Linked DNA regions of Homo sapiens: region 1 is linked to region 2. Evidence: fine-mapped expression QTL. A gene starts in region 2. The other region holds a variant in brackets. All regions are shown on one strand. Distances are between the middles of the regions.

Region 1 (2,934 bases), 240 kb before region 2:
TATGTTTCATTATTATTTGGTTACAGTCCAGGCGAGGTGACTTCCAAGGTTACCCAGCTCTCTTAGAAATAATAAAAGAAGGCTCTATCTTGGCAGAAATTCAAATTTAGAAAGCTCTTCCTGATGTGTAATCTGACTCCTTTCTGATATTATTGAAGTCCAAATTTGGATGAGACTAGATATAATAATTTTCAATACATATCTCTGGGAAAGAGTGACTTTTTCCTCCACCTTAGAAATGAGTCTAAGAGGAGTACTTTTGTTTTTTGTGAAAAACTGGATGCGTGACATTCTCCACAGTATTCGGTTATTGGCTTCATTGCTGTAACAAACAGAGCACCAATATTTAGAGTTTCAAACAAGCTAAACCTTACTTTCTCTCTTTTTAAATTTTCCAGAGGTAGATGTCTCAATCTTTGTTGGGAAGTCTTCTCTAATATGTTCAACTAAATAATCAAAATATATCTTTTTTTAGGATTCATCACCTTAAACATCATTTTTGTAATTATTTTATGTGCTCTGTATATTACTCATGAAATAATACATTATTTGTGTGCTACCATATTATTATTATTACTATTGCATAATTAAGGTATTTTCATGTTTTCTAACTGTAATTATTAGAATTCTGTAAGTCTGCTACGGTGACATTTCTGGTTAGGAGTCAGAGTGGATGGGACACTGAGCAATAAGGTAAGTATTAGCATGTGAGTAAGCCCTGGTTTGCCCAAGATAGTTGTCATTTAGGCTTCCTGTCCCAATGTAATCATAAGTAGCATTGTATTAATCCATTCTTGCATTGCTATAAAGAAATACCTGAGACTGGGTAATTTATAAAGAAAAGAGGTTAATTGGCTCATGGTTCTGCAGGAGGTACAGGAAGCATCACACTGGTATCTCCTTCTGGGGAGGCCTCTGGAAGCTTAAGGTCATGGCAGGAGGCAAAGCAGGAGCAAGGGAGCCAGAGAGTTGCTACACACTTTTGAACAACCAGATCTCAAGAGAACTCACTATGGCGAGGACAGTACCATGAGGATGGTGCTAAACCATTCATGAGAAATCTGCCCCCATGATCCACTCACCTCCCACCAGGCCCCACCTGCAACACTGGGGTTTACATTTCAATATGAAATTTGGGTGGGGACATACATCCAAACTATATCAAGCATCTTTGTCATTCTCAGAAGTGTCCCTGTTTGGATGATAGGTTCCAATATCATGCTACCTATGGGGTAGGATGGGGGGACCTATGGGGTACTAATCTCACCTAATATGTACATAACACTTCACAGTTATCTCTTATAGTATTCAAGCTGAGAAAGGATGCAGATCTTAAAAACATGTGCTTTGGGTTATTTAGTTAGTATAGTGTATTGGGAGCTCA[A/G]GCTCTGGAATCAGAAAAAAACTGGGTCTGAATCAAAGTTCAAGAGATCTTGGCAAGTTCCTTTATTCTTTGAGCCTTAATGTGCTTATTTGTAGAAAGGGAAAACTAAGAGTACCTCTCTCAAAGTGGTAGTTTTGGGAATTAAATGAGATAAGCTAATTTTTTAATTTTTGACATATAATAATTGTACATATTTATGAGGTGCAGAGTGATATTTGATACATGTATAAAATGTGTAAGGATCACATTAGGATAATTAGGATATCCGTCACCTCATTTATCATTTATTTGTGTTATGAGCATTCAAAATCCTCCCTTCTATCTTTTTGAATATAGATAATACATTGTTACCTATATCCACCCCACAGCATAATAGAACACTAGAACTTATTGCTTCTATCTAGTAACTTTGGAGGTGACCTAGACTTCTATTAGTTTCCTAAAACTGCTTTAATAAAGTATCATAAACTGGGTGACTTAAAACAACTGAAATTTATTGTCTCACAGTTCTGAAGGCTAGGAGTCCCAAATCAAGGCAATAGCAGAGCCATGCTCCCTCTGAAGCCTACAAGGGAGAATCTTTCCTAGCTTCTTGTGGTTGGCTTGTAGATGCAACACTACAATCCTCCATCTTCACATGGCATTTTCCCTGTGTCTCTACACACTGTTCCCTCTGTGCATGTCTTGTCTGTGTCTGAGTTCAAATTATCCCCTCCGTTTTTTTTTTATTAGGATACCTATCATATTGGATTAGGGCCCACCCTAATGGCCTCACCTTAACTTGACTACACGTGCACCTACATCTATTTCCATAGAAGGTCACATTCTAAGGTAGTAGGGGTTAGGACTTCAACATCTCTTTTCAGGGAGACACAATTTAATCCATAATACTATTTTTAAAGTATTTAGTTATTTGCTTGGCCTGTAATAAGCTCTGATTAATGTTTTCTGCTGATATATCCAAACAGAAAAATACTTCGTTAGGCCAAAATCATATAAGATAGAGGGAATTTTGGTGCAAGAGAAACTGCTATTTGGCTTTAGATATTTATTTTCTCTTCCTCCACCCTGAAAGAGACTCTGATTTTGGTCTTGACTGTGGCTACCTGGAAAGAGAACTGAAATATACATCCTTACTTGTAACCGGTTGTGGTCATACAGCTAAGTTTGACCAAGAAGAAGATGCAGGTGAACTGTAAGTCCTTAATGAGAAGGAAAATAATGCCTTACCTTTCTTTTGCTCCTTCTCACTGGCCAGAATGCAGAGACATGATGGCTGAAGCTGGAGCTTTTCCCTGAAGCAACCACCTGTTGGAAACTTCATGTTGAAGATGACTGAATAATAAGACAGAGGGGTCTGGGTCCCTGGTGGATATTCCAGATCTGGGTGTTCGTGGAGATATGAGAAAGCAATAAACTTCAATTTTGCTTAAATAGCTGTTACTTGGGGCATTCTGTCATTTATGGACAAATCTGACCTGGATTAATACACCTCCAGCTGGGTACCAAGACTGATCTAATAGTCAAAAAGGTTTCATTCCATCTAGATA
Region 2 (2,934 bases):
TAATATGTATAGATTTTCTGTCAATAATTTCTTATTCTAATTATGTGGTGGCTAACTGAATGAAACATTTATGGTTATGATATAGAATATTCTAAATACAACTACAGACAATATGGATCATAGATAAAGTAAATTATTGTTTTATGGCTCCAGTGGTTCTTCCTGGTAATTAATAAAAATAAACAGTTATTAAATATATACAGAAAAACAGCAATCTATCAAGCTTATAGAACAATTAAGAATATATAATAATCTTTAAATCAATAAATTAAAAGGTAAACATTTAATATAAAATGAATATATTAAAGGATAAAGAAGTAGCATATTATGGAACATATAGAGATTATTTTATTTTTTGAAGGTTCAACCTCTTTTAAATGGTTAGTATTGGTGTTCTTTTCTCTATGAAAACAGATTTTAGAGAAAAATGATAGTGTATTTCACAAAGCCAAACACCTCTATATTGTTATCACTCCCTATATGCATGGCCTCTCTAAAGCTGTTAAATAAAAAACTAAAGCACAAGAATGATAGTTCCAATTTCACTATACATTTATGTTTAAAAAATACTGGACACACTGGGCATTTAAATAGATGACATACAGCCAGGAAACTCATTAGACTAGCTTTAAGTATAATAAAAAATATTTTTTCTGAATACAATTAATCATAAGCATCTACAAAAACACAAGACCATTGATGCCTAGTATGTACCATAAATCACCATTTCCAGACAGGCTCTATTTTCTTTGAAAGATAAAGAAATAGTAAGCAGTTTACACATCAAACGATGCCTTTGGTTCCTGTAATTTACATTTAAACAACACTGGGTTAAAAATAGCAGCATGAAGATGATTTTAAAGTAAGGAAAATGACCTGGTAGCTAGGTTCTATGGTGCAGATAATGAAATGTTTTGTCAGCTTACCTGATAAAACAGAGCCTTATGAATTACAGCATAACAAAGCCCAGCATCCAAGATGGTTAGGGTATAACGTGTCTTCCTCTGCAGCTGTTCAGCTTTTTTTTTTTTTTTTTTTTTTGACCACAGAGGTTTACAAATTAGTTACAATTTTTTTTCTTTCTTTCTCTGTGGATAAGAAAACAAAGAGACCTTTCCAGAATCCTCTCTGCTTATGCCTCCGCTTCCTGTTCTGAGATTCACTCTATGGTACCCAACATATATCAGAAAACAGCTTTGAGGAAAAAAAAAAAGAAAGAAAAAAAGGCCGATCGCACTCAAAGTGGTACCGCCATCTACTGGCGGACACACACAAAATTGAGCCAAAGAAAAAACATTCCCATTATCCTCTGTCACAGGGAGGAAAGTAAACCTGCATGAAGCATGGGTAGTCATGAAAGTGCCCCAAGATGACAGTAGAGAGGTGATGTGAGCTAAAATTTCCCAACACACTAAAAAAATGTAACTTATCTACTACATATAAATATGTATGAGACCTTTTACATATTCAGTTATTTGCATCTCACTAATTTTTTTAAAAAATTTTATCACTTTGTTGTTTTGCATGATTGTTTCACACATAAACTACTAAAATTAAAAGATATATAAATTACTGTTTGAAAAATAGGTTTTAAGTTTACATTACCCTTTACGTGTAGAGTTTTGCGAAAGCTCCCTTGTGGCCTGCTCTAGTCTTTTGAAAACCTTTTCTCTTCCTGGGATGAATTATTTTCAAGGTGAGGAATTTGACTCCTTAGAGAACAGTGTAAACACATACTCACTGATAGTATTTTTGTGTTGCTTTCTGGTAAAACATTTGCAAGAAATATCTAAATGTAGAAAAAGATTCTATACATCAGTGAACCTAGCTAATATTATTTATTAGGATATTGAAGCACACAATACATAAAGAAAATAAAAATAATCCATCAGTTATTAAGATATTTCTCAATCCAGATGTATGTTATTGTTTCATCTGACCTTTCATATCTACTTTAGAGCAAACAACTATGATTTTATTACAGTTTATCATCAATTAAATAAATACATTCATATTGACAAACCAACTGTATGGATGGACAAAAATGATGTCAAGTATTATATTAGACTTGAAAAGACACAGAGAGAAACACACAGTGCCTGCCATAAAGGAGCTCATACAAAGAAGAAAAACAAATATAGCTGATACCATATTTCCCAGCCATGTGTTCAAGAACTGTTAATTACATACTTCGTTTTCAATTGTGGCCCCCATTTTGTCTAATGGCAGAAAAATAAATCTAGTCAGTTCCAGGTAAACTAAATTACTTGAGGCTTTTCCCAATGATTTTGGGTTTGCATTCAACCAATACATGATTTTCCTCTTCTATCTCTCCTTCTCATGGAGACTGATCTAAGTTCAGGATTGTGTACATATATAGAGAAAGCAGAGTATGATCCCGTTCCCCCTTTCTCCACATGGGCATCCACTGAGGCCAGGAGTCCTGCATGATCCATGACCATCATTATCCCTCATATCTACTAACGTACCCACAGGCCCACTGGGCCCCGGGAATAGCATCCCTCCAGCTTTGCATGGCAGCATCCCCTCTTTGTCACTTCTTCCTCTAAGGAAACTTTTGTTCCTGTCCTTTAGGAGGAGAGAAGAAAAAGCAGCATGTTCCCAGGGTCACTCTTGGCTGTAATTGGCTGACTTAAGCCTTCCTCCCTGCCCCAGGCGCCTCACACAGCCATCTCTGTTCTGCTGTTTGTAAACCATGGGATGTAATGCACTCTGCAGGCTTCAGGCAAGCGAGGCACAATCTCTGCCACACTAGAATAGTGTAAATAGATGGAAACTTCTCATCTTTTCATCTTTTTAGCTAATCCTAGATTGGCAAACTATGTAAGGAGCCCTTATCAGAGACTCCTTTCCTTCTTCATAACTTCCTTCACAGACTCAAAAGAGTTTTTGCTTGGGTCTCTTCTTTCTGTA

Direction of the effects. Alleles are on the strand shown, and positions count from the first base shown. SD is a standard deviation of normalised expression in the study named.
For the expression in subcutaneous fat of the gene that starts at base 1,154 in region 2, allele A in region 1 goes with a lower level than allele G (small effect, 0.19 SD a copy in GTEx).

What was found. PIP is the estimated chance that this variant, and not a neighbour inherited with it, causes the effect.
Region 1: its variant is the best candidate, but not a certain one, in a credible set for the expression of SCN3A in subcutaneous fat (GTEx, PIP 0.71).

The regions. Positions count from the first base shown.
Region 1 is chr2:164,960,275-164,963,208 of GRCh38, forward strand. No RefSeq gene overlaps it. Among named protein-coding and RNA genes, the nearest start is that of SLC38A11, 6.2 kb to the left of the region's middle. The variant A/G (reference allele first, on the strand shown) is at 1,385.
Region 2 is chr2:165,202,897-165,205,830 of GRCh38, forward strand. SCN3A (sodium voltage-gated channel alpha subunit 3) reads right to left here and starts at 1,154. Exons shown (of 28, transcript NM_006922.4): 1 at 927-1,154.